Regions from separate parts of the Homo sapiens genome. Here regions 1 and 3 are each linked to region 2. The links come from fine-mapping of genetic effects on gene expression. A gene starts in region 2. Each other region holds a variant in brackets. All regions are shown on one strand. Distances are between the middles of the regions.

What was found.
Region 1: its variant is fine-mapped to the expression of CALHM2 in whole blood (INTERVAL, PIP above 0.99).
Region 3: its variant is fine-mapped to the expression of CALHM2 in blood mononuclear cells (TOPMed, PIP above 0.99).

The regions. Positions count from the first base shown.
Region 1 is chr10:103,478,714-103,482,881 of GRCh38, reverse strand. It overlaps CALHM3 (calcium homeostasis modulator 3), which reads left to right and starts at 3,642. Exons shown (of 3, transcript NM_001129742.2): 1 at 3,642-4,136. The coding sequence starts at 3,850. It overlaps NEURL1-AS1 (NEURL1 antisense RNA 1), which reads left to right. Exons shown (of 4, transcript NR_120675.1): 4 at 2,885-3,279. The variant C/T (reference allele first, on the strand shown) is at 1,953.
Region 2 is chr10:103,449,981-103,454,171 of GRCh38, reverse strand. It overlaps CALHM2 (calcium homeostasis modulator family member 2), which reads left to right and starts at 1,802. Exons shown (of 4, transcript NM_015916.5): 1 at 1,802-2,016; 2 at 2,887-3,089; 3 at 4,073-4,191. CALHM1 (calcium homeostasis modulator 1) reads left to right here. Exons shown (of 2, transcript NM_001001412.4): 2 at 1-932. It overlaps LOC124902494 (a long non-coding RNA gene), which reads right to left and starts at 1,729. Exons shown (of 2, transcript XR_007062275.1): 1 at 936-1,729. RefSeq lists a silencer at 1,401-1,730 and enhancers at 1,569-2,190, 2,191-2,811, 2,760-3,129.
Region 3 is chr10:103,328,044-103,332,043 of GRCh38, reverse strand. The region is part of intron 7 of PCGF6 (polycomb group ring finger 6); the gene reads left to right. Among named protein-coding and RNA genes, the nearest start is that of PCGF6, 21 kb to the left of the region's middle. The variant A/C (reference allele first, on the strand shown) is at 1,956.

The DNA.
Region 1 (4,168 bases), 29 kb before region 2:
GAGGCCTTTGTGTGGCAAATACCCTTCCTTCAGTTTGTTATTTTTATTTTGTTTATTGGTATGTTTGCCCATAGAAGCGTCTAGTTTTTATGACTCTTACTTGTCCATCTACTCCTCTACAGCTACTAAATTCTGGGGTCTGTTCACAAAGGCCTTCCTTAGCCTCTGATTATGAATAAATTCCCTTACGTTTTCCTGTAGAATTTTTATGATTTTAATTTTTATGTTGAATCTTTGAACCATGTGAAAATTATTTTGGTATGAAGCATGAAGTAGAGATTGCTCCCGAATGGCTAGCCAGTTGTTCCAGCGCCATCTGTTAGATGGCCCCATTTCATTTCCAGCCTGTCTCTGCCCTTAGGGCTACACGGCTCTGTGGAGTCACCAGAGTGGGGCCCACAGAAGTGCCACGTTGCTTTCCCCGGGTCTGCCAGGACCGCTCAAAGGCCTGTGTCCTCAGGGAAGCAGAGAATCACGCCACCGAGAGACAGAAAGGGCACCACCCTCTGCTAGACACACAGAACAACAGTCTCCCAGTCCTGAGAAGTGGGACGCACGTTCAATGCCTTCCCTGTGAAGGAAAAAGAAAAGAAAGAACTGTCAGGGGAGGGCATACTCACCATATACAAAGTAGGAAGACGGCCACACCCATATGTATGAAAACACACATGCATACACACACCAAATATGTACACATGCACTACGCACATACACATACATGTGTACACACATGCATACACAGGTACATAGACACATCTCTCACACATCACATACAACGAGTTTCTCCAGTAGGGGGCATCTAGTCCTAAACAGCCCTCTCAATAACAGGAACTCCAAGAACGGTGAAGCCAGTGTTTCTCAAATAATATCCAGACTCCTTTGCAAAGATCAAAAAAAACTGGAAGACCCCCAAGAATATATCTGCAAGACTCCAATTTGAAAATAAAACAAAATAACATGAAGAAAGTACCAAAGATTTATTCTATAAAGATCTTCCAATTGCAAATTAACACATATTTACAACTGGTTTTAAAAAAAAAAAAAAGATTAAATCATTATTAAAAAGAAAAATGTAATTTATTTTTAGTCTCTCTTTGTTGCCCAGGCTGGAGAGCAGTGGCATGATCTGGGCTCACTGCAGCCTCCGCCTCCTGGGTTCAAGCAATTCTCATGCCTCAGCCTCAAGAGAGGCAATTCTCAAGCCTCAGCCTCCCAAGTAGCTGGGATTACAGGCATGCACCACTATGCCCGACTAATTTTTTGTATTTTTAATAGAGATGGGGTTTTGCCATGTTGGCCAGGCTGGTCTCAAACTCCTGAGCTCAGGCAATCTGCCTGCCTCGGCCTCCCAAAGTGCTGGGATTACAGGCGTGAGCCACCACGCCCGGCCAGATCTGCAATTTAATATCTTTCCATATGTGTGAGTAAAAGAAGCCTTTCTCCATTTATTGCTGCCTCTAGTTCTCTCTCTACTAGTTCAGCAGGGCCAAGCTCCAGGCAACAAAATGGAATTCTCCTTTTTGCCTTGTCCTTTTATCTTTTTATGTTTTTCTAATTAAAATGTTTTATGATTTTTGCTGGAAATAGTTAAAAATCATTATTATGATTATAGTAATGATTTATTATGTCTACTATTATAAAAGTCGACAATTCAGAAAATAGAGATTTAAAAAAAAATGTAAGCCATCCCCTCTCTTTGACAGATAATATCCCTTTTGTGGTGGGCTTCTTTCTGGCCTGTTTCTTTACTGAAGTATTTCCTGTAAATACCCGGCAAGGGTCAGCCCCGCTGCAGTCACTCAGCACCTGTTGCCCTGCAGGGCTCCAGGGACCCAGGCTGACCTGGTAGCTCTGTCTTACCTCTCAGAGGCTGGAGCTGTGAAAAGGTTGGCCTGGAGTCTTTGACCCAGTTTTCTTCAAAGTGTTCTTCCAGAAGCATTGTCTATTGTTTT[C/T]TGAACTCTCAAGGTTAGAGTGGCTGGGGACCCTTAGGACACTCTATCCCTCCCTGAGACTAGAATGGGATTGAGGGGTGCTCATGACCCTCCCAGCCCAGTTAGCTCCCCGCCTGCTCCACACCAGCCCTGCTGGTTCAGGGTCACGAAGCCTGGCCTTGGGCCAGGACAGTCCCCTTTTCTGGTCAGCAGCCCAGTGGGTGACTAAGGCTGAAAGGCACAGATGGAGGATCCCAGCTTCCTCCCTGGCTCTGTCCCCGCCAGGGTATGTGACCTCCAACAGCCCCTCTGGGACTGTACCCACCTGAAGTTGTGGTGGTCCTCCTGGCTTGAAGGGTTTCTCACCCCTGCCCCGCCCTCTCCTCCGCTCAGAGTCAGACTCACAGGGCCACTGGTGGCTCTCCCCATCTTCTCCAGTGCCTCATTTCCCTCACACAGGGAAATCTGTCTCATAGGACCTAGAGTAACGTACAAATATGGAAAATAAAAATACTAAGTGGCCAGGCTCAGTGGCTCATGCCTGTAATCCCAGCACTTTGGAAGGCCAAGGGGGCCAAATCACCTGAGGTCAGGAGTTCGAGACCGGCCTGACCAACATGGCAAAACCCCTGTCTCTACTAAAAATACAAAAATTAGCTGGGCGTGGTGGTGGGTGCCTGTAATCCCAGCTACTTGGAAGCTGAGGCAGGAGAATCACTTGAACCCGGGAGGCAGAGGCTGCAGTGAACCAAGATCGTGCCACTGCACTCCAGCCTGGGTGACAGAACAAGACTCTATCTCATAATAATAATAATAATAAGTAAGACCCAGGTTTCTGTCTGTCTTCATCAGAAGTACAGACCACACAGATGGTTACGAAATTTGCAAGACTTATTTGGGATGATCTGACTTACAATATGGGCCAAGTGACCTTTACAAAATTCGTTTTGCAGGTTTCAGGGGTCCCTCAAACATCTGGGCTGTCATCCTTCGGAGAGACTGGAACTGAGACACAAGGAGAGACCTAGTGATGTGGGAGAGTTAGGAGAAGAAGCAGTGATTTCAAACGCATGCCCCTCACACGGAAGAAGGGCAGGGGGAAAGCCATGCAGGTGTGGGCGTGGCACTTGAGCAGCCTCTCCCATGGGCACCCAGTGGTTAATGCACAATGTTTAGCACGTCGCCCAGGGAGGCCATCCCCTTCCGCTACCCCTTTCATGGCAAATGCTGAAACATCGTTGAAGACTCCTCTCAAGGGTCTCCTCTTCCAGGAAGCCTTCGGTCAGGAATAGGTGCCCCTTCTGGCTCCTCCTAGCCTGAAAGCCAACATGAAATCTCCCTGGGCTGAGCTGAGTCGTCATATTTTGTTGTTGTTGTTGCTGTTGTTTTACTATGCCTGTGAGACAAGTTCAGAGTCATGCTTTTGATCAAGACCAGAAAATATACTACCTTGGCTCCATCAGCATCTTTTCCTCACCACACCCAGAATTTGCCTGTCCCCCGAAGGAAGCTCCAACGGCTGTCAAGCCTGAGCATCCAGACCGTAAAGCAAAGAGAAATGGGCCGGGAGGAATGGAGTGACAGGGCGGGGCCCATTTGCCTAGAGGTGCTTTGGGCTGCCCGGTCACAGAGGGTGACTCACTCCCCCAGACAGGAGGGGAGTGGCACCAGGGGACCATTGGGCTGGGCAGGGGAGCCTTTGTGGTGAGAGCCTGTCCCTGCCTTAAGTGCCTACTGGATCCCGGGAGCCTGGGCTGGGGCCTGGGCACTGCTTCCTCCTTGGCCCCTCAGGCCCTTGGAAGCAGAGAGAGAACCTCTTGCAGATCCCAGGCTCGTCCCCAGCACAGCAGACACCAGGAAGGTGGCCAGAGCCTCACTGAGCCGAACCGACGGCCGCCCACCCACCCAGGCTGGAGCCATGGATAAATTCCGCATGCTCTTCCAGCACTTCCAGTCAAGCTCGGAGTCGGTGATGAATGGCATCTGCCTGCTGCTGGCTGCGGTCACCGTCAAGCTGTACTCCTCCTTTGACTTCAACTGTCCCTGCCTGGTGCACTACAATGCACTCTACGGCCTGGGCCTGCTGCTGACGCCCCCGCTCGCCCTGTTTCTCTGCGGCCTCCTCGCCAACCGGCAGTCTGTGGTGATGGTCGAGGAGTGGCGCCGGCCCGCAGGGCACCGGAGGAAGGACCCAGGCATCATCAGGTGCGGTCCCACACCACTCAGTGACCCATGAG
Region 2 (4,191 bases):
GCACATAGTAGGCACCCAGCACAGGGTGGCTAATGTATTTGTTGATTTCTGAACCTAAGGACTTCCTTCCTCCTCCCCTGGGCAGGGATGAGACAGCAACACAAACACTCGAGCTTCCATCTTGTTGAGGAGGAAACAGAGGTACAGATAGGTTTCTCAGCACCGCCCTCAGCTCTGAGACATAAGTCCCAAGCATCTAAGGATTCATTTTGATCTTGGCATGATTCCATCCTTTTTTATCCATCCTTCCCTCTATTCCCACTTCTGGGGTCCAGTTTCCCTCCTCTTAATTATTTGGGAGGAGTTGCTCAGATCTTTGTGGGCCAAGGTGGGCTGGGAGGGCTCTTCCAGGAGGTAGGAGTTGGTATGGGCCCTGAAGTCAGGGAGGATTAGGATGAGCAAAAAACAAGGTGTATGTTGGTGGGTGGCAGCACTTCCAGTGGGAAGAGAAGGCCCGGAGGTATCAGGAGGTACAAATGTGATGAAGAGCAAAGCTTTGGGTCAGGCACACCTGAGTTCAAATACCAGCACTGCAGGACTTGTGGCCAGTCACCCAGCCACTCTAAGCCTCAGTGTGTCTGTCTATAAAATGGATATTAGAAGACCTGCTTGGCCAGGCGGAGTGGCTCATGCCTGTAATCCCAGCACTTGGGAGGCCAAGGAGGGAGGATCACTTGAGCCTGGGAGTTGGAGACCAGCCTGGGCAACATAGCAAGACTCTGTCTCTGTAAAGTAATAATAATAATAAGAAGAAGAAGAAGAATAAAGAGAAGATTTATAATTTTTTTAAAATGAAAAAATTATTTTTTAAAAAAGACCTGATTTTCAGGATTGTGGTAAGGATAGAGGAAGATAACTTTTAGGGAAGGATCTGGGACTGTGTTTAGCACATGCTGGGATCTGAAACAAACAAATAAACAAGCAGAACTTGGTACCTTTTCTTTCCTTCGTACATATGGTCAAGCCCAGCTCAGGGAGGCCAGCGGGTCACTCGGCAGCTCCACCATGACGGAACCACGAGCACTGCAGAGCTGACAGATGTCGGGGGTCCTCTCCCTCCATGCTAAGGGTCATCTAGCCTGTCCGTAGACTCTCCTGTGCAGCATTCCTGACCCGTGACGCTTCAGCCCGCATCTTGACCACTTTTAGATACAGGCTGGGCAGCTCTGATTATTACACAGGGCTTCCTTCAGAAACCTGCCTCCTTGTAACTTTCACCCACCAGTTGGAGCTCTGCCTGCAGGACCCGGAGAATCCCTAGGCTCCTGAATTCAATCCTCAGCCCTCCAGGGATCCGAAGCAGGTCCCGGGGAGTTAGCTGACTATAGGTCAAAGAGTCAGCATTGGGGATGGTTTGTCCAGTCAATGGACAACTCTGAGGGAGAAGGGCCAGTAGAGGGTGGGGCCCTGGCCCTGAGCATCCTGCAGGGCTCAGCGCGGGCCTGACGACACCCTCCCTTGACCCTCGCGGGGTCTCCTTTGGTAGCTTCTGCCCAGCGGGGGTCAAGTACGTGGGGTGCTCTTGAAACTGTCATGGGGGGCAGGTCTGGGTCAGATCTCCCCAATGCCTCCACATCCCCACGTGGCCCTCCCGACTGGTCCCATTGGTGTGGAGCATGGCCCGGTCCGGGTCTGGGCCGAGGGCGGAGGGCCAGCACGGCCCAGGGACGGCGAGCAGCGGGTCGGTGGGACGCGCAGCAGCTGCAGAACAGGCATCTCAACTTCCTCTCGGCTCCTCTCCTCTCGCGCCGCCCTCGGGGCCCGCCCTCCTCTGCCTGGTGGCGCCGGGAGGCTGTTTTTCCACTCACTGGCGCGCAGACTCCATCCCACTGTTTTCTTCTCTCTTTTCTGGAGTTAGATTAGTCTGAAGCCGCCACCAGCCCCAGGCCCCCGTGCAGAAGAAAAGCGGGAGGGAACGGCGGAGGCCGCCGCTGCCCTGCACCGCCCTCCTGGAGGCCACTTGGAGAGTCCGGCCCCGAGGAGGCCATGGCCACAAGTGCCCACAGCTGGCCCCAGGTAAGGAAGGGGCCCTCCCTGGGGTGTGCCAGGTGTCAGCGGAGCATGGTGGGGCCTGTCCCACGCTGCCCAGAGGGAGAGAGGCCCCTAGCTGAGGTTCCCTCCACCCGGTTGAACAGGGAGCAGTCCTGCCCCTCCCCGAGCCGCCAGTCTCCTGTCGTCACTGATGTTGGAGGAGGTCCCACTGGGGGTCTGGATGTGACCCATCCTTGGCCTGGGGGCAGTGGTCTCAGAAGATGGCCTGGCCCATCCTCTGCTCACCACCCACCCTGTGCAGGTATCTTGTACCCCACTTTGAGCCAGTTTATGAACCCAGGGCCTCCACAGGGAGCTAATTAGGAGCCTAGAAGCCAAGAAGGGAAAAGGATGGGGCAAAGGGGGCTGACTTTAACCCATTCTTCCCCAGCAGTGATGCAAACTGCCTTTCCCAGGAAGTTAGGCTGGAAGCTCCAGGCTGTGAAGTGGGGGAAGAATCAGACTCCTCCTCCTCCTCCTCCTCCTCCTCCTCCTCCTGTTGTTCCTCCTGGTCCTCCTCCTCCAGCTTCTCCTTTTCTTGGAGTCTGCATGGCCACATGGCTCTGCCTGAGCCCATCTGGCAGCCTTCCTTGGCAGGGACAGAAGGGGTGATCTAGAAGGGGTGATCCCTCCATGAAGCATGGAAGGGAACAGGGCTAGGTCTGTGTTTGGCGCTCACCCCATCCCTCCACTCCCTGGCTTCCTCTGGCCTGGGGAGTTTTGTTTTTCACCCTCCAGAGGGGGAGGACATGGGGCCACACCCTGGCCTGTCTCTCAGGCTTGTGTGGGTGGAGGCTGGGAAGGGAGTTGGGCTAAACTTCGCTGTTGCCCGAGGCCATGGCCACTTCCCGGCAGGTTGCCAGCGTCGCTACAGCCCAGACCAAGGCAGAATAATCTCCGGATGAGCTGGTGGCACCGCTGAGCCTTTGGTCTCACCAGGGCTTCCTGTTGCTGGCAGGCGGGGTGGAGCGGAGCTGCTGGGAGGCTGCTGGATAGGAGAGGGGTCACGGCTGCGGAAGAGGAGGTTCTTCGGGACACCCGTGGATGGACACGGCAAGGTCAGTAGGAGACAGAAAAAAAGAGGGTTCACTTAGTGCAGAATCACCCTTATCCACTTCCCAAGTCTCCTTAGGTTGTGGTTAGAGGTCCTGCTGTGGCACCTCTGTATTTCTTGGGCCTCAGCAAGGCACTTTATCCTCTTCAGGTCTCAGTTCCCTGATCTTTGCAGGCAGGAGAATCGTCCCCACCCCAAAGACAAGACAGGGTGGAAGAGATGGAGAGTTTCACGCAGAGCACAATCAGGCATCTTTTATTCTTTTCTTTCCCTCCAACATCCCTAGGAAAGAGCAAGGCTCAGGATGATTTATCCTCTTTTCACTGATGAGGAATCTGAGGCCCAGAGAACAGTCATGAAGTGTGATCAGACCCTGAGGTCTCCAAAAAGATAATGTCCTTGCGAACTCCAGGGATTCTGGCATCTTGCTGTACCCACCCCAGCCCACACGGCAGGATCCTATCCAAGTCCCTTATCCACCCGGACACTCACTTTAGCTTTTACACCCTCAAGGCTGAGACCCTAAGGACACGCCCTGGATCCAAGGAGTCCCTGGCCCCTCTGCTAATATGCGCCACCTGGACTCCCAGAGGGAAAGCCGGTCAGCACCCCACATGCATTAGCACCATGGGCCACCCCCAAGCCCTACCCCAGGAGAAGCTCGTGGTGGCAAAAAGAACCTAAGCATTTGAGGCAGGTCACCCAAGCTTGAATCTCAGTCTGCCTCTCATCTGTGACCCTGGCGAGCCACTCGTCCTCAGGAAGCCTTCACTTTCCCTAGTGCACGGCGGGCACACAGCTCAACGTGGGACTGTGAGGATGGGAAATGAGGGGTGCCATGCACCCTGGAGGAACTCAGTGAACAGTGGCAACTGTCACTTCCCTGGGGCCCTATGGTCCTTCCTTTCTCCCCAGCCTGTCCACACTAGCATCTTCCTCAACTCCTGGTTTTCAGAGGGAAACACTTATCGGTCATCTGCTCCACAGGAAACACCAGGCCAACCACAGCTGGGGATAAAATAGCACAACCACACCCTGCCGTCCAGCGCCTCCCAGCCTGTGCCCCTTCCTAGTACCACCAGCAACCATCAATCCCGTCTCCTCCT
Region 3 (4,000 bases), 120 kb after region 2:
GAGGTGGGCAGATTACGAGGTCAGGAGATCAAGACCATCCTGGCTAACAGTGAAACCCCATCTCTACTAAAAATACAAAAAAAATTAGCCAGGCGCGGTGGCGCGTGCCTGTTGTCCCAGCTACCCGGGAGGCTGAGGCAGGAGAATAGTGTGAACCTGGGAGGCGGAGCTTGCAGTGAGCCAAGACCTCACCACTGCACTCCAGCCTGGGCGACACAGCGAGACTCTGTCTCAAAAAAGAGAGAGAGAGATGTATTAAATGACACTGAAGGAATATAATAAGCCAGATCAAGATAGTGGAAAACTACATAGCAACCAATTCTGTTTCTTCAGCAAATAAATTAAAAAGGAAAGAGATGAAGAATAAACCTACAGATGAAACCTATTGAGAAAAGTAACTTAAGGGACATATAAATTAATTACATTGTGTGCACATTATTTGGATTTGATTTGAAATATATATGTATTTTTAATAATCTCAAATTGGGCTGGGGACATTGGGTCATGCCTGTAATCCTAGCACGTTGGGAGCCCAAGGCAGGTGGATCTCCTGAGTTCAGGAGTTCGAGACTAGCCTGGCCAACATGCCAAAACTCTATCTCTATTAAAAATACAAAAATTAGCCAGGCGTGGTGGTGGGCACCTATAATCCCAGCTACTTGGGAAGCTGAGGCAAGAGAATCACTTGAACCCGGAGGGCAGAGAACTTGGCGAAGTGAGCTGAGATCATGCCACTTCACTCCAGCCTGGGCAAAAGAGCGAACCTCTGTCTCAAAAAACATAATAACCCCAAACTGGAAACAGTGTATATAACCTATTAGCTGATGAATGGATAAACAAAATGTATTTTCATATAATAGAGTATTATTTGACAGTAAAAAGGAATGAAGTACTGATACATGGTCTGACATGGGTAAACATTGAAAACATGATGCTAAGGAAAAGAAGCCAGTCACAAAAGGCCATCCATATATTATATGATTTCATTTATCTGAAATGTGCAGAACAAGAAAATCCACAGGAGCAGAAAGCAGATTAGTGGTTGTCAGAGGCTTGGGGAAGAGGCTGAATGGGGAGTGACTACCAAGAGGTACAGGTTTCTTTTTTTCTTGTTGGAGATGGAGTCTCGCTCTGTCACCCAGGCTGGAGTGCAGTGGCGCAATCTGGGCTCACTGCAACCTCTGCCTCCCAGGTTCAAGCAGTTCTCCTGCCTCAGCCTCCCAAGTAGCTGGTATTACAGGTGCGCCCCACCACGCCCAGCTAATTTTTTGTATTTTTAGTAGAAACGGGGTTTCACCGTGTTAGCCAGGCTGGTCTTGAACTTCTGACCTCAGGTGATCCACCCGCCTTGGCCTCCCAAAGTGCTGGGATTACAGGCGTGAGCCACCTTGCCCAGCCAGGCGTCTTTTTAGGGTAATGAAAATATTCTGAAATTACATAGCAGTGATGGTTGCAAAATTTTGTAGATATACTAAAATCCATTTAATCGTACACTTTTAAAGGGTGAATTTAATGGTATGTGAATTACATCTCAATAAAGCTGTTGATTTTTTTTTAATACCTAAGCCAAGATTCGATAGAAACTTTGAATAGAAACATTGTTTGTAATTTGCTTGGTGTAAACATTTTGGGGATATAAAAATGTATCTGGTTGAAACAATATATGCTTGTCCAGGCACGGTGGCTAACGCCTGTAATCCCAGCACTTTAGGAGACCAGGACGGGAGGATCACTTGAAGTTAGGAGTTGAGACCAGCCTCGGCAACATGGGGAAACCCTGTCTCCACTGAAAGTACAAAAATTAGCCCGGTATGGTGATGCATGCCTGTAATCCCAGGTACTCAGGAGGGCTGTGGCAGGAGAATTGCTTGAACCCGGGAGGCAGAGGCTGCAGTGAGCCGAGATTGCGCCACTGCATTCCAGCCTGGGCTAAAGCAAAACTTCATCTCAAAAAA[A/C]AAACAAACAAACAAAAAACAGGCCGGGCACAGTGGCTCACACCTGTAATCCCAGCACTTTGGGAGGCTGAGGCGGGTGGATCACGAGTCAGGAGATCGATACCATCCTGGCTAACACCCGTCTCTACTAAAAATACAAAAAATTAGCAGGGCATGGTGGCAGGCGCCTGTAGTCCCAGCTACTCGGGAGGCTGAGGCAGGAGAATGGCGTGAACTCAGGAGGCAGAGTTTGCAGTGAGCCAAGATCGTGCCACTGCACTGCAGCCCAGGCGACAGAGCGAGACTGTCTCAAAAACAAACAAACAACAAAAAAACTGGCCGGGCACGGTGGCTCACACCTATAATCCCAGCACTTTGGGAGGCTGAGGTGGGCAGATCACCTGAGGTCAGGAGTTTGAAACCAGCCTGGCCAACATGGTGAAACCCTGTCTCTACTAAAAAAACAAAAATTAGTGTGGTGGCTCACGCCTGTAGTCCCAGCTACTTGGGTGGCTGAGGCAGGAGAATTGCTTGAACTCGGGAGGCAGAGGTAGCAGTGAGCCAAGACCGCGCCATTCCACTCCAGCCTGGGCAACAAGAGCAAAACTCCATCTCAAAAACATATATATGTATATGCTTATGTTAGAATTTTTGTTTAAGCCCGTTACTGGTTATATTTTTTTCATGAAATCTTTGTTTCAGTTTTCTCTTTTAGTAATGACAGCCCTATAAAACAATAAAATCATTTTCTACTAGGTTTAAGAAATTGGGGCCGGGTGCGGTGGCTCACGCCTGTAATCCCAGCACTTTGGGAGGCCAAGGCGGGTGGATCACCTGAGGTCAGGAGTTTGAGACCAGCCTGACCAATATGATGAAACCCCATCTCTACTAAAAATACAAAATTAGCCAGACGTTGGTGGCGGGTACCTGTAGTCCCAGCTACTTGGGAGGCTGAGATAGGAGAATCACTTGAATCCAAGAGGCAGAGGTTGCAGTGAGCCGAGATTGTGCCACTGCACTCCAGCCTGGGTGACAGAGCGAGACTCCATCTCAAAAGTTAAAATCCGCCGGGCGCAGTGGCTCACGCCTGTAATCCCAGCACTTCGGGACGCTGAGGCCGGTAGATCATGAGGTCAGGAGATCGAGACCATCCTGGCTAACACAGTGAAACCCTGTCTCTACTAAAAATACAAAAAATAGCGTGGTGGTACACGCCTGTAGTCCCAGCTACTTGGGAGGCTGAGGCAAGAGAATCGCTTGAATCCGGAAGGCAGAGGTTGCAGTGAGCCACGATCGCTCCACTGCACTCCAGCCTGGGTGACAGAGCAAGACTCCATCTCAAAAACAAAAAACAAACAAAAAAAGTTAAAATCCTGTACATAAAGAGCAAAAATGATGCAAATAATCTTAGAGACAAATGGCTCACAACACTAACAACTCTTCAGTGCTTACTATGTGACAGGTATTTTTATTATTTACATACATTAACTTATTTTCATGATAATTGTATGAAGCAGGTGCTATTTTTATCTATTTTACAAATAGAGACACAGACAAGTTCAGGAACTTGCCCAAAGACTCACTATTAGAAAATGGCAGAACCAGGGTTTGAGCCCAGGTGTCTGCCTGGAGTGCCTACACTCAACACCTATTCTGTATGCTGTACTGTGGTAATAACGGGCAGACCATTTATCAGTTGCTCAAGTATAACAAGCAAGCCCAAGACACCTAGAAAAATAAAATACCTATCTAATATAGACTCTGAGTTTTAGTTGGGAAAGTTCTCAAGAACAAACTACTGTACAGATAGGAAAGCTGAGTGCTGTAACATGGAACAAATGTGTGCCTCGGTTCCCTAGGTAGCCATTCTAGGCTCCCAGTCTGTAAGTCCTAAAAAAACACTTTGTGCTTTTCCTGTAAGGGACTGTTTAGTTCTGATTACTTCAGCTTTTTATTTGCATGAGGTCGTAGCATCGTTAGTTGTCTCAGATCGGAGCTGGGTAAGCATTAGTTTTTACTTTCAAACTCTGTCATCTACTTATCACCTCCTACACCTCAAACTATTG